Linked DNA regions of Homo sapiens: regions 1 and 3 are each reported to be linked to region 2. The links are microRNA targets in miRTarBase. Many come from high-throughput screens and were not tested one by one. Region 2 holds a microRNA gene; each other region holds the end of a gene's coding sequence.

Region 1 (5,225 bases), not on the chromosome of region 2:
GAGGGCACTTTGGACTTGCTGAATCCTACAGTTGCATTTGTCAAGCATGGCAGGGGACACACTTAGAGGCACGTACCCTGAGGGAGCGGGAGGGCACCTGGTGAGGAGCCGCAGCTGCTGCGAGACAGCCCCCGCCCCTCCTGCGGGAGGTCTGTTGTCTGATTCTTTGCATGAGGGAGGGAAGCCCGTGCTGTGTGGGCCCTGCTGCTCCCATGCGTCCGCCACACATGCATCACACGGTAGTAGTCACTCCTCCACACCTGCCTGGGACCCGTCTAACCTCCTGGTGGCCACCTGGGCCTCCACCCTAGACTCAGAGCTGCCCGCTTAACCTGCGCAGGTTCATGGCTGTGAACACGGGGCTGTGTTGGCTCCATCTATTTTCTTTTTCTGAAGAGTTTTAACTTAAATTGCAGGCATGATTTTCCCCTTAAAATTTTCAGTAAGCCTCTCTGAAGAGCATGGGCGTTTCCCGCATGCCTGCAGCGCCTGCACCTGAGTCTGGGCTCAGGGAATGCTCAGGGAGCCTGAGGCCAGTGTCCTGGGGGGACAGAGCCATTGCCATTGTGTCCCACGCAGGCTGGAGGCTGTGGACGGGGGCCAGAGTGGAGTGCCGCGCGGCGGGCCTCTCGGGAGGCTGTGGAAAAGGAGCTGGGAGCTCTACAGCAGTGCTGGGAGCGAGACGGTGGCCCGGCCCAGCCCCATGGGCCACACCGGCTGGTGAGACGAGAGGATGGGGCAGCAGGGGACCGGGACCTGCGGGCAGCTGTGGTGATCAGGACGCTGAGGAGCCAGGAGGCCTGCCTGGAGGCGGTGCTACGTCGACTACAGGGACAGTGTCGGCAGGAACTGGCCAGGCTGGTGGGAGCCCGCCCTGGTCTCATCTGGATCCCGCCACCTGGACGCTGAGGGCCTGTCGACGGGCCCTCGTGTGGGAAGCCTGCCCTGGCCCAGCCTGGCTGGGTCTTGGAGGAGCAGATTCCAAGGCCAGGTGGCCGCAGGGACGATGCAGATGCAGAGCCCACGTCACATGCTCGCTCCAGGGGTGGGGCTGGGCTGACTCTGGCCGGATCCCAGGCCTGTGGCTAGCAGCACTGGGGACAGGAATGGCTGGTCCCTTGAGGAGGTCGTGACAGGCTCAGCCTGGTGGTCTGGAGGGGACTCGGAAATAAATTGTAGCAGCTTTCCTGCCGCTGGCCCTCCCCCTGCCACCCTGTCGGGTTTCCCTGTTTGGGGGTGGGAGCGTGGAGGAGCCCCTGGGCAGTGGTGGCCAGTGTAGGGCTGGCCAGGTGCTGGAGGACATGCATACCCCAGCACTGGTGAGTGGCAGGACCACGGGGAGGTGGCACAGGCCTCCCTGGAGCGGGATTATCTCGGCCCCGCCCCCCTTCATTTGGGCTCCCGCTGTGGGCCTGGCCCTGGGCTGTGAGCACAGCTGCCCCCACCTCCGGCCAAGGCTGTGCCTGGTGGGTGCGCCGGATGGGAGCCCGGGGCTCTGCTCCTTCCCGGGAGGTGGTGCTCCGGGTGGGGAGGCACAGCATGGACAGAGGGGCTTTGTTCCAGAGGCTGCTCAGCAAGCTCAGCTCATCCCTGACAAAGAGCCATCTGTGTCCGGGGGACGTGCCTCAGCCTGGCGGAAGGAGGGTCGGCCTCATGGCACCCCCCCCGCCCCCCACCAGCAGACACAGGTGGCCCTGAGGCCTCCAGCCCTGCCTGCCTTGCCGGGCTCCCCTCTCTTCTGGGGCTGTCGGACTCTGACCTGAGGTGGGCAGACGATGGGGCTTGTGGGGCCACCTCCAGGCTCCTGCCGGCCCTGCCCCGAGGCCACGTCCATTCCCCCTGCCAGAACATGCTCTCACTGGGGCATGTGCCTGAGTGACAGCACACACCTGGGGCTCCAGCTCCAGTCTCAGCCTGTCTGGGCCTCCTTGGTCCCAGGGGTGGACACGCCTAGACCGCCTGCCTTCCCATTCCGGTGCATGGGACCCAGGAGCACCGGCAAGACCTGGCCGTGGCCAGCAAGGCCTCCCTTTCAGGAGCACCTCTCTGACCCTCTCATGCAGCTGGGCCTCCTGTGGGCCACCAGGATTTGTGCAAATGCTCCCTGGCCTGCGCCACCCTCCGGCCCCTCCGCCAGCTCCTCCTAAGGGCTCCTGCCACCTCCACCTGCTGGTTCCAGCTCTGTTCCAGGCCCTCAGACCTCAACCCTCCTCCACCTGCAGCCTCTGAAAGTCCCCCGTGCTCTCAGCAACCCTCGACTGCCGGACAGGGCTCTTCTTGGGCTGGGAGCAAGTCCACTTGAAGCCCTGCTTTTTATAAACTGCCACAGAACCAGGACTCTCACGGGCCTGGGGGACTTGATTTTTACGAGCACAAAAGCAGGCTTATTGTCATGGAGTTGTCACCTCTCGATGTGATGCGTGAATTCAGGGCAGTCCAAGTCCTGGGTGCGCGTGTGCCCCCATGATGCTGGCGGTGGAGAGGGCCTGAGAGGCCAGGGCCTGCGGGAGGGAAGCCGGCAGGGTGCCCTAGTGCTGCCCGTCATGATGGAGCAGGGATGGGACCCTGGCCTTCAGCTCTAGTTGTTATCACACATGCAGTGGCTCGAGTCGCCTGAAGTCACGCCCTCTTGTTCTGTGGGTCGGGGGTTGCCAGTCCACAGGGTTAAAGCTGGATGGGCAGGCAGGGCTGTGTGGCCCCCAGCTCAGAGCAGGCATGGAGGTCCTCACAACACTGCCTCTCTGACACTCTCCTGCCTCCCTCCCCTGCCTTCAGGAGCCCGAGTCATCCTCAAGACCCCCATCCCCTCTGTCCCCATAGACTTCCTGTCTTAAGGCCAGCTGCAGCTTTTCCCTTCTGTCTTGCGACCTGCCCCAGACCCACGGAACAGCCTGGAGGCCCACGGTGTCGGCCTGGCTGGGGCAGTAGGGCCCTGCACCCTGGACGAGCCAGCATCTGTGTAAGGACAGTGCAGTTTGCTTCCCAGGAAGACAGAGGCGAAGATGGCCTCACAGGAAACAGCAGAGGTCACCTGGCGCGTGAGACCAAGTGCGCTTACTGGAAGGTGCAATAAACTTCAACAAAACTAGAAATTTTTTTTTTTTTAAGACAGAGTCTTGCTCTTGTCACCCAGGCTGGAGTACAGTGGCGCAGTTTCGGCTCACTGCAACCTCCGCCTCCCGGGTTCAAGCGATTCTCCTGCCTCAGCCTTCTGAGTAGCTGGGATTACAGCAGTGCGCCACCATGCCCGGCCAATTTTTGTATTTTTAGTAGAGATGGGGTTTCATCGTATTGGTCAGGCTGGTCTTGAACTCCTGACCTCAGGTGATCCACCCGCCTCGGCCTCCCAAAGTGCTGGGATTACAGGCATGAACCACTGTGCCCGGCCAAAACTAATGTTTATTAAGAGGTGGTGCAGCTGGATGCAGTGGCTCATGCCTGTAATCCCAGCGCTTTGGGAGGCCTGGATGGGAGGATTGCATGAGCCTGGGAGATCAAGACCAGCCTGGGCAACATAGGGAGGCCCCACCACTACAAAAAATAAAAAAAGCAGCTGGGTGTAGTGGCATGTGCCTGTAGTCCCAGCTACATAGAAGGGAGGCCGAGACAGGAGGATCGCTTGAGCCTGGAGACCAAGGCTATGAGGCCAAGTGAGCTATGATCTTGTTACTGCACTCCAGCCTGGGCAACAGAGTGAGACCCTATATGAAAAAGAAAAAACGATTAATGAGATGGAAGTGCAGTGTCTCATACGCTTGCCTATTCTGTTCCGGCTGGCTCAGCCTTCCTGGCCTCTGCTTCCCTTTCTGCACTACTTCAGGGCTCCTTCACCTGGTCCTGGCTGACCCTGCCTTGAGGGATGAGGCTGGTTGGGACTCCGGCCAGGTCAGGATCACAACCTCTGGGGCCTGTGGTGGTCGCACCTCCCCCTGGAGCCCAGGGAATGTGTCCTACGGCCTCTGAAGTCCCGCCTTGGTTGGACAGGAGGGTTTCTCTTTTTTTTTTTTTTTTTTTTGAGACAAGATGTTGCTCTGTCACTCAGTGGCACAGTCAGCTCACTGCAGCCTCCATCTTCCAGGATCAAGTCATCCTCCCACCTCAGCCTCCTGAGTGGCTGGGACTGCAGCCTTGATCTTCCGGGATCAAGTCATCCTCCCACCTCAGCCTCCTGAGTGGCTGGGACTGCAGCCTCGATCTTCCGGGATCAACTAATCCTCCCATCTCAGCCTCCTGAGTGGCTGAGACTACAGGCGCGTGCCACCATGCCCAGCTAATTTTTGTATTTTCATTTTTAGTAGACGCAGGGTTTCACCATGCCGCCCAGGCTGGTCCCAAACTCCTGGGCTCAAGTGATCTGCCTGCCTCTACCTCCCAAAGTGCCGGGATTACAGGCGTAGGCCACCGCTCCTGGCAGGAGAGAAGTGTTTCTGAGTGGTTCCTGTTTATCTCATGGGGACCCTGACCGCTCAGTCCACACTGCCCTTGTCTACCCCATGGCCTTGGGTGTGGTTGTGGCTGGTGGCTCTGAAGTCCTGCGCCTGGGCTCAGCCTCCAGCTGTCTGTCCCTGCGTGTGAGCCTGCATTGGCTCTGCAGCCATCCCTGTCCTCAGAGTGGTCGGAGGGTGTCCTGCCCGGCCTCTCGCTGCCCTGCCTGGCTGTGCTGGGCTGGTCCCTCAGTCATTCTACCTGAAGTCACGTGGTGCCCAATATGTGCCATTCTGAGGGGCCCCATGGCCATGTCCCAGAGGGAAGAGCAAACACCATAGAGGAAAGTGCTCACAGCTGGAGGACATGGGTGCCCGCCGGGGCTCAGCCCCAAGGGGGGCACAAGCTGAGAGTAGGCAGGGCCCAGGCTTCTGCCCCCATCCGCTGGTGGGGAGGTTCTGTGGCTCAGAGGAGGTGGGTTTGGAGGACAGCTGGACTAGGTGGGTTCTGGCCCACTGGGGCACAGGATTGGCCGCTGTCTTGGTTGCGGGTGTGATGTAGGGAGCTGTGGTGGCTGGGCCCATGGTGGTTTGAGAACTGGGCAGGCTGGGGTGGGCACTGCTGCTTGGTAGCCCGGCTCTGACCTGCTCACAATCTTGGCATCTTAGTGGGTGTCAGGTGGGCAGTTGGCTGCGTGAACCTGGAATTTGGGGCTGGAGAATGGAATGTGAGAATGCAGGGTGTGGGTGGGCTCAGCCGGGGTGGGAGGCAGGGCAGGGCAGGGCAGGGCCCCAGGGTGC
Region 2 (5,225 bases):
TCCGTATCTTTTACCATTTATCTTGCTTTTGTCTTTGGAAGCGTATGAGTATGAAAATCCTTCAAGTCTTTGAAGATATATCATGACCCCTCCCATTTCTCCTTAATTCCATTTCTAATTGCATGATAGCAGAGGCATTGCAATCTGGGCCTTCAAACTGTCTTAGGCAGGTGTTAATAGAGTCTGAACTGAACTGAAATAAAATTATTTTGAGTAAAGCTATAGTTCTAAAACAGTGTGTATCAGCTAGGACCATGTACAGTACTAATAAGTACACAATAACTATTAACTATTAGTATTATGGTAGGGCTTGGAGAAATTACCCTTAAATATACAAAAGACTATTTCCTTAGTTATGTTACTCTGTGTCTCTAGAGCCATATCAAGACATCAAGCAAGAATCAATATTTGTTGTTGTTGTTGTTGTTGTTTTTCAGGAACATAGTATGTTCAACATTTCCATGGGTTGGTGGCAGAAATAGCACTCTGGCTAGCTGGGAGAATGGGACCTTTAATACCAGTGATGTGAGGATGGATATTAGCCTTTTGTGGCCCTAAAATGAGGTAAAATTGTATACCTCAATTTCCCTCATCTGTAAAGTGGGAAAAATACTTATATGTTGGTTGTGTGGATTGAATAAGATAAATGGACAGAGTAAGTGTTCAATTAAAGTTAGCTATTATAGTACTTGTTATAATAGCTTCCTTCACCACCATCATTCAACCCAGTTAAAAGGCTCTTGGCATAGACATACAGGCTTTGAGGGAAAAGTTCATGAAGTAAGGACTGAGAACTTAGCTCTCTAGGAATTGGCACATTAGCAGACAATATAAAAATCACTGAAAGTTTCCAAGGCTGGGCATGGTGGCTCATGATTGTATTCTCAGCATTTTGTTAACCTGAGGTGGGTAGATTGTTGTAGCCCAGGAGTTCACAACTAGCCTGGGTAACACAGTGAAACTCTGTCAAAAGAAAGGAAAGAAAAAAAAAGAAAGAAAGAAAAAAGAAAGAAAGAAAGAGAGAGAGAAGGACGGAAGGGATGAATGGAGGGAAGGAAGAAAGGAAGGAAGAAAGATAGAAGGAAGGAAGGAAGGAAGGAAGGAAAAGAAAGAAAGAAAGAAAGAAAGAAAGAAAGAAAGAAAGAAAGAAAGAAAGAAAGAAAGATTGATTCCATGAAGGAGTGAGATTTAAGAAGAAAAAGGAAAATGAGGAGAATCTTCAAATCACCAGAACTGGACACTACAGAGGGAATTCTAATCTTTCTTGAGAAGACAGAGGATGTCTCCTCTTAAGGAAGAAAACGTAGGAGGTGCGTCCCATTGTTGGCAGTAGAATACTGATAGCATTTAAACTTTTGGTGCATTGTTTTCTTTATGTATTAAATAGGGATAGTACATGTATAATACTTGGAACAATGTCTGGCCCTGAGCAAAAACTCAAGTGTTGGCCGTTGTTATTTAGCTTTGACAGTGCTGCCTATCTGCCTGTAGTGAAATTATTTTTGCAACCAGAACTGGAATGTTAACTACAATTACATTATTTATTTATTTTGTGCATTTATTGGGGAATTAAACCAGTAATTAATATGTAAAAGTTGTACATTTCTTTTACTTTTTTTTTTTTTTTTTTGAGATGGAGTTTCACTCTTGTTGCCCTCAGGCTGGAGTGCAATGGTGCGATCTCGGCTCATCGCAACCTCCACCTCCTGGGTTCAAGAGATTCTCCTGCCTCAGCCTCCTGAGTAGCTGGGATTACAGGCATGCGCCACCACACCCAGCTAGTTTTGTACTTTTAGTAAAGACAGGGTTTCTTCATGTTGGTCAGGCTGGTCTCGAACTCCCAACCTCAGGTGATCTGCCCGCCTCGGCCTCCCAAAGGGTTGGGGTTACAGGCATGAGCCACCGCACCCAGCCAAAGTTGTACATTTCTAAGGAGGATAGAAGAGAGAAACAGCAAAGGATAACCAGAGGTAGAAGACTCTAGATATAAGAACAAAAATCAGGACCTCTGGACTGTATTCTTCCACATATGTCATTATAATTTAAATATACTGATACCATTATTCTTTTTGTATTTAGAATGGAAACTTACCCGGTAAAGAAATTTTTTTCTCTAGGATAAAGATCCCGCAGTGAAGTGATTAAGGATATTGTTAAAGGGAAAAGTGATATTGGGAGAAGACATTTCAAACCCAAAGTAATGATTCACAGGTGAAGATATGTGGGCCTGGGAATTTCCAAGAATATCACCTCATGAACTGATTTGCAAAGAGGAAGGAGGCCTTCATCTATCCATTAAAAAGAAAAAGACCAGATATAGGAGTAGATGCTAGGTATATACAAGTACACAAGGCTGACAAGTTACCTGCTAAGCTTTTCAGAGGGATGTTTTTTGGGTGAATGCCTGAGGACAGGAATTAAGGCATCAGTGTATAGACTCAAGATCAGCCCTGTGGAATATGTAAGCCCTGTGGATGATAACCATAAGTAACAAAGAAAGATAAAACAGAGATAGCTGTTTTACAGAGGGACTTTGTGAAGGGGACAGGGACAAGTATTGCTTTTTCAATGTTTAGATAACAAAATGTGCCACAGTTATAAAGGGGCATTTTCCTAATTTATGCAAGGAACACAGCTAAGTACAATGAATACTGACGCAAATGCAGCACACCTGGTATCTTGAGGGTTTGTAGATTTGGCAGCCCCGGGTGACAGCACTCTGGAGAAGTAACCAGCATTCTCATGGAAGGCACCGGTGGCGAAATGGCAAAGCGTCAGCGGAGACCACAATGCCTGGTGGGAGACTGTGGATGCCCAACAGACATGGCGGTACTCAGCAGATGCCGAGCAAATGATGATGGATACCCAGTGGCAGATGATGGATGCCCAGTGGGAGATGATGAATGCCAAATGGGAGATGATGGATGCCCAGTGGTAGATGATGAATGCCCAGCAGATACTATGAATGATGACGGGTGATGGTGGATACATGTGTGCTCCATGAAAGCCCAGAATAATTGCAGCAGTGCATGATGAAAATTGATTTGCTCATGATCACACGAGAGAACCACTGGTGACTTCTAGAAGTACTTAGGGGAAAATGAGTGTACTTTTTCTAGAGGGCTAGAGGACCTTTGTTAGCACAGGGGTGAATGTGGAGTATCAACATGAAAGCTATTTCTTCTGTGCTCACAGCTGTGATGCCCATCACAAATGTAAACACTTTTAGGGACCAGGTAGGTAATATCAGTGGGTAGGACAGCTGGGTATAAGAAGATGGGGAGTGGTAGAAAAGATAGCAAAGTTGGAACTCACTCTTAAAATGTATTCAAATGATAAAGTTTAAAAATTGTTGGCTAGGCCAAAACAAAATTTATCTGCAGGCAAAATTCAGCCAAAGAGCCACTATAACAATATGTTCCAATACCCTAGGGCTTAATATGCCATCTATCTAGGGATATGGTACCACCTTTATACACACAAGAAAATTGTTTCACTTTGAGAATGACCTCTAGTTATACAAATTTTGGAGGTATTAATATATATGAGAAGATTGTCTTCTGCTATTCATTAACCAATTCGAAGAAATCAGGGAGATTTTATTTATTGCATGTTTATTTTCATAAACTGTATATGTTTTGAGAACATTTAGGACAACTTGGACTCCAGTGAGTAACTTTTGATGGAATCCTTGAAAATCCCCAGGGATGACAGTGGAAAATATGATGGATCTACACTTTCTAGATCCATTCCCAAACCCTCTTTCCCAAATATAGTTCTGGTCTAGGTTTGACAATATCTATCTTTTACAAAAAGGCATAAATCTCTAGCAAAAGGGGGTTTGGATTTAAGGCATTCTTCAAAATAAATGAAGACAAAATTACAAAATCCAGAAAGATTTATAAGCATATATTCCATTTTAATGGAATAATTAAATTTCAAAGATAATTCACTGTCATGCATATATATCTAGAAAACCATGTATATATACACATATATGTGTACAAATAGTATATATACTATATATATGTGTATATATAGTATATATACACGTATATATACACATATATGTATATATACACGTATATATACACATATATGTATATATACACGTATATATACACATATATGTATATATACACATATATATATATATAGAGAGAGAGAGATAGAGAGTAATCTTTTGGGGGGAGGGTGCCTTATTTATCAGTTCTATGTTTTAATGTAGTTATTCATTAAAGGAGCATTCTAAGTGACATATAACATGAAGCAATGACTACAAACAAGGACTTTGGAGTTTTATAGGCCTGTGCTTAATAATCAGTTGTGTTACTGAAAAGTTCTAAGGTCTTGGACACATTACTTATCTCTTCTATACATTACTTTCCTTTATTTAAAATATGAAAAAATAGATAATACACATTTCTTTGAAAGGGTTTGGAAGAGTTAAATGAGTTAACGCATGTGAAATTTTTTGCAGAATGCCTGGGGTTATAGTATATTCTCAGTTAATGATAATTATTTTTAATGTAAAGATGAAATGGGTTGATTGTTGTCTAGGGCTTTACAAAGTTACTAGTCAACAATTTTAGTTCTCTCCCTTCCAGTTCTCAAATCCTTCCAAATTCCAATTAACATACTTAACCGGTTGGTTAGTTCCTTTTTACATAGATAATCTTATATTTTGATAAAAAACAACCCTTTTATAACTTCCACAGGAATTTTAGCTACCAGACTTATTTCTGATCCACAGGTTTTTTGACTCAGGTGAACAGAAAACCAAGCCTAATACATTTGCATTCTCAAGGGATTCAAATTATTTAGGTAGTTATTACTACTAGCCCTAACTTAGAAAGATAAGCAAAAAACTATAAAGAATTTTAAATATCTTAAAATTATATTGATGTTTACTTGCTTTAGTTCATTAAAATGGCTGTAATTACATTATGTAATTTGCAATTTCTGAAAGCACTTCCTCTAATTAAGAAAAAAAATGCTACTAAAATGGAGAATGCATTTCCATAACAAAGTAACCTAAAATCTACTTCTGGCACAGATGTTTGATTGCATGGGTTGCATGCTAGTAATGAAGTGAGAAACCTATGTCTCCCACATCCTCTGTATGTCTAGTTTGGTTGAAGTGTTGCAAATGAATTATAAATATGTTGTTGTCTGAAAAGAAATCATGGCTGTTAGAAAGAGGATGTGGGCCAGATGTGGTAACT
Region 3 (5,225 bases), not on the chromosome of region 2:
TAGCCATGATTCTTAGTTACATGGGAGGAAATGAATAATAAATACATTGTAGCAAGTTTAAACCACAAGGGTGTTTCACTGGTAACAACATTTGAAAACTGTACACTTGCAAAGAACAGCATCTTCAAACATTAGTATATCTGTATATCAGTAAAGCTTTTACATGTAACAAACATGCTCTTTCCATATATGACAAATTTAAAAAATATGCATTGCTTGGCAACATGAACTAGGCAAAAATATTTCTTTGTTCACTAACTTTATACAGGAAAACAGGACGAAAGGCATGCATGTACAATACAGATGCCTGCACAGGGCATGCAACAAAAGAAAGCTTTTTAAAAGTCAGCTTACATTAGGCATAAATACATGAGGATTATATATTAATAAGGGAGGAAGTTTTCTGTTCGACATTATTAACATTCCTGTTTTCTTCCTATTCCTCCCAGAGGAATACACATTCACCTTTAAGTAAAGATAAAGGAATTACAAAAAAATAAAACTCACTTTGCAAACATCTCTGATGACTTGTAAAAAAAAAAAAAATCAACATTAGTGTTATCACAGCTCCATGTGCAAATTATCCTTCTGCAGGTTCTTCTTGTAACAGGCACACCTGAGCGCCTTGGTCAGGCTGCTTCCCCAGGCCCAAGCTGGAGCTGACTGCTACAGACATCTCCAGGGGACCAATGAGGCCAGGCCTGCTTTTCCTCCCCTTGCCCGCCTTCTGGTTGCATGCTTTTGCATTCAGCCCAGCTCAGCCCCCAAGCCCAGGCTCCTGGGGAATAACATCTACAACCTTGCACCGGCAGTAGCTACAAGAGGTGCAGAAGAACAAAAGATCCGGAGAAGGCTCCCATCCCGTAAAAGGCAGCCAAGGACACCTCAAAAGAAACCCTTGTTTCCCTCAGTGTCTCTTCAAACGAATGGGAGAGAGGGGGGCCCAGCTGTAGCTCCAATCCTGAGTACCAAAAAGGAACCCTCAATACACAGGATTTGAGAGCTCGGTGCAAAGAGCCGCCCGGACAGGCAGACCCAGCCACATCTATTTTGCTTGCTGGCTCTCGTTTAAAAAGTGAAAACTCAAAAGCATGTGAAAAAACAACATATCAGCAGCAATGTTTCATGTCTTGTACACAGTTCATGTGTTTCTTCCTACTGTTTCTGGTAAGAAGCCACTATGAATAAAAAGCACCAATAAAACATCATACATGATAATATTGTAGAACACCACTGTCCCTAGGACAATGTAGAGATGCCAAGTACACACTGCTTAAATCAGAACAAGGGGGGAAAAGCATGTAGTGAAATAGATTTTACTCTGAGATTTTAAAATTGTTACTATTTTCTTAATATAAAACAGTTGCATTTGGTGGGGGTCAATGGGTAAATACAAAAAAAGGCACTGCTGCTTTTATTACTAAATATCTGACTTCACAGCCTCATGCATGCAACTGTTTGATTCTTTTATAAATAAAATTCTTTTGCTTTAGGATTTTTAAATTGAGCTATATACCTGTAGTCAACACAGGACTCAAAACAAGGTGGGGACAGGGTCTTAAAATTTATCAAACACTCAACTTAAAAAAAAAATTAAAACACTAATAGCAAAACACAACTAAGTAGATAAATCTATACACTGTCAATGAAAAATAAGCTTTTCTTCTTTAAAAAAAGAATTATGTTGTTATTAATAACAGACTTTATCATGGTTACCAGCCATAGCAAGTTAATAAGTAACATATCCAAAATAATATCTCTAATAATCAGATAACCATTGTTTCTATATTCAGTGAAGGAATAAATAGAAATTCAGATTTGCAGATACTTTAAGGTCTTCTTCCTTTTAAAGGATTCATGCGAATGTGATTGTGTTCACAATCTGTTTTCTGAATAACATGAGTCTTTATGGATATATGTGTTTTTGCAGCAGATCCGAATGCTTTCCTTTCTCAGCAAGATGTGTAATACCATGGTTTTTTCTCCTCTTTATTCACTTTCTCAGTATCCTACAAACCCACATTCGCAAACCCTCTGGTCTTACCTTTGGCCTTCAACCTTTGACCTATTCTTCCTGCCTTACATGTGATCGTCCATCCCAACACATTCCCCAAGTAACACTAAGCTTGTTTAGAAAAGGGATGTGGGGGATGAATGTTAATGGCACTTGGTTAAAAATAATCAACTAAAAAATGCCATCTCTTTCTGCACATGGATTTGCATCTTTAGAACTTAGTCACCCAAGGAGAGGTCTGAACCTTTTTTTTTTAATTCAGCGAATGAAATTGTGGATTCAAGCCTTCTCTGCTCACGAAAGGCTTTCTATGGTTACATTGTTCTCACCTTCTTAGACTCAAAAGGGCTTCAAAAACCTGGTGGTGGCATCCAAGGCTGGGTTGGGTGCATGTTTTTGATCTTGAAAGTAAAAGAAAATTGTTCGGATTTCATTAAGGCCTTTTAGGTCTGTATGTAGTTCATTAGCTTTTAAAAAAAAAAGGGCAGTGATTTCCATAGTCTGATCTTCTGAATTTCAACTCTGACTTCACACACACACACACACACACACACACACACACACAACCAGGCACCCGACTCATCCATGTAACAAACAGGCCTTGTACCATCTCCCTGATCTTGCCTCTGGCTGAGCATTCATACCTTCATTTACACAACCTGATTTTCCACACAACTCCTCTTTGATTTCCTCTAATACCCTCCACTGTGTCAAATTCTGAAATGTAGCCTTTCTTGCCCTTCATAAACAGAGCTATTACTTTGTGGTAGGTACCACAGTTTCTCAATCTCCCACCAAGTAACGAGTGTCTTTTTCCTCCCCTCTGTGTGGATGGATAAATCAACTAACACAGCAAATCCCTAATTCATACTGTGCGGATAGCGCTGTCATTTCCATCTTGAAATCAACCTTTCCTACATCTTTCATCGCCCACTGGAGATGGCGGGGCTGTGCGGTGTGGGCCAAACATCTCCCTGCATGTGCTCTCTGGACTTGCTGACTGACCCCTCTGTACGCTGTTGCTGGGCCTTTCTCCCCTCCTCTCCCTCAGCAGTGACAGGTGAAGTAGATGCAGCCTCCAGGCTCCAGTTCCTACAAGCAACCCTAATGTAAAGGTTTTGAGCTCATTTTCTGGGTATCAAACCTCTCACAAGGGGAAAAAGTCCATCCTTGCCTTTTCTCCTCCAGTGGAACTTGTACCCACCTGTGTGTGTGTGGAGCAAGGCTGGGAGTGACAGGATAATGCCCCATGGGTGGGGTGGAAAGGGAGGGAGGCCTCTCCGTGACAAGCAAATCCAGCACAGAAAGAGGCTGCAGGATTCTTTGAGAATCTCTGGGTGCCCTGCGAGCAAACCCATAACTGATCACATGATGTCCTCATCCTTGTGCGCTCACCCAATGCTGTGCTCATTCCAGCCACGTCCATGTCCTTCAAGTCCACCCATACGCTCCTCCCACCTAACGGTGAAAGACGGACAGCTCAGGCCTACATGACTGCATCCATCTTCCCAAGAAGCAGAGCTTGGCAGCCGTTTTGAGAAGACAACTCTGCTGCTCTTATAAAAATAGAGGGAAAAAATGAATCCGTAACAACAACAGATCCTTTACGAAAACCATAGTATGAAGAGAGGTTCTATCCAAACTCTTTACACATTATGTACCCTTTAAAATTATTATGTAAACAATACACAAATCAAAGTTTAGCTGAAGTTTTGTTGCAGGGAATTTCTTCCTTCTTTCCCCTACTGCCATGGGCCCTCTCCTATGGCTGTTTCCAGCAGGGGCCTCAGGGACATCCAATCAGGATTAGATTGGATATAAAAGGGAAGCCACTATCTTGCTTTGGGTGCACGTGCCCGCGATATCCTTCTGTGGCCTGCCTGTGAAGCCAGGCCTTCCGAGAAGCCTCCCCAGGGCCAGGGCTTCTGCTGTCCTCTTATGTGTCTCCTATCTCTTTCATGGCAGTACTCTTTCCCCTGTCCCCGTTCCATCCAGAGAGCTACCTGCATTCCCTCCACCCCCCTCCCAGTCTCATAATTCCCTAGAGACCCCTCCCCACCCCACACACCAAACCATCCCATGACAGAAACAAATGACAAAATAACCAACCCCAGGTCTACTGATATGTTTACGAGGATGACCTACGCTCTCACAAAATCAAAACGGGAGAGGGACCAGGGGGAAAAAAGGCTGCAAAGTATCTTGGAGGATTCTGTGCAACCCTGAAGATGGCGGACACTGGACCCGCAGCAGTCGATTTCACGGCCAGCGCGGTCACTCTCGTCTTCAGCTTCTAGATGGTGGAGGTCCGGTCAACCCCGTCTGGGAGAGAAAGCAGCAAACGATGGGCACAGGTGAGCAAAACAATCCAGTTCGTGCCCACCTATGCCAACGCCATGCACGGTGGGCCTCCCAGCCTCTGAGGGCAGAGAAGGGCACCTACGTTCATGTGTTCACGCATTTACATACCCACCCACATGATATCTGGGGAACAGCTATTTTTGCCAGGAGCCATATTGAACCTGAGAACCAAGATGAAAATATCTAATCCTCACCTCCCAAGTACTTATATTTGAGGGTAGACACAGACATGTAGACAGACAATAATGCTATATGTGATCACTGCTGTAATGGAGTAGGTACCAAGAGAGCAGGATCGTGGAGGAAGGAATGATGGCTGCCCGGTTGGCCTGGGAAGTCAAGGACAGTTTCAGAGAGATACAAAGTGACTTTTGTAGCTGGTGCTGGCAGGAGGAGGAGGGTGGGGATGGTGTGCGGTGCATGCATAGGTGGGATGATAGGTCATCCGGTGGTGGAGCTGAGGGTGCGTTGGAGGTTTAGGATGAAGGATGGGGAATGCAGTAGAGGAGATGGGGTGGAAGAGCCAGGCAGGGGCTGCAACGGACACGCAGGTGGACCTGTCTAGCTCACATCCCTTTCTTTGGCAGCCTCTCCTTCTCAACCCACGTCCCTGATGAGACACTGGGGACAAGGTGGCTGTGACCCTGTCCACAGCTGAGCAGACCAGAGGGATGGACACATCTGACCCAAACAAATCCAGATTCTCTGTCTCGAGAATCTGATCAAAGGCAGAGATGTCTGAGGTAGGTGTTGTGGGCACTTAGAACTGAACAGTCTTGGGGAGGTGGGAGAGTGCTGAGGCCGCCCAGAATCTGCCACATCTACGTTTTGGAGAAGTGGATGACCCAGG

The links. The annotated mature microRNA hsa-miR-1911-3p reads CACCAGGCAUUGUGGUCUCC and lies in region 2 at 2,780-2,799, opposite strand. An mRNA with a match to its seed (bases 2 to 7 or 8) in the 3' UTR can be bound and repressed. Matches are read on the target gene's strand: a 7mer-m8 pairs with bases 2 to 8, a 7mer-A1 pairs with bases 2 to 7 and ends in A, and an 8mer does both.
Region 1: miRTarBase lists TEDC1 as a target of hsa-miR-1911-3p. Seed matches in the 3' UTR shown: 7mer-m8 at 1,142-1,148.
Region 3: miRTarBase lists SAMD4A as a target of hsa-miR-1911-3p. Seed matches in the 3' UTR shown: 7mer-m8 at 2,580-2,586.

Annotation. Positions count from the first base shown.
Region 1 is chr14:105,498,038-105,503,262 of GRCh38, forward strand. TEDC1 (tubulin epsilon and delta complex 1) reads left to right here. Exons shown (of 9, transcript NM_001367178.1): 9 at 580-1,211. The coding sequence ends at 909. Among named protein-coding and RNA genes, the nearest start is that of TEDC1, 9.4 kb to the left of the region's middle. RefSeq lists a silencer at 775-1,069.
Region 2 is chrX:114,760,806-114,766,030 of GRCh38, reverse strand. It overlaps MIR1911 (microRNA 1911), which reads right to left and starts at 2,847; the gene lies at 2,768-2,847. The region is part of intron 4 of HTR2C (5-hydroxytryptamine receptor 2C); the gene reads right to left. All of the region lies in intron 3 of LOC105373313 (a long non-coding RNA gene), which reads left to right.
Region 3 is chr14:54,788,027-54,793,251 of GRCh38, reverse strand. It overlaps SAMD4A (sterile alpha motif domain containing 4A), which reads right to left. Exons shown (of 13, transcript NM_015589.6): 13 at 1-4,336. The coding sequence ends at 4,308. Among named protein-coding and RNA genes, the nearest start is that of MIR4308, 88 kb to the left of the region's middle.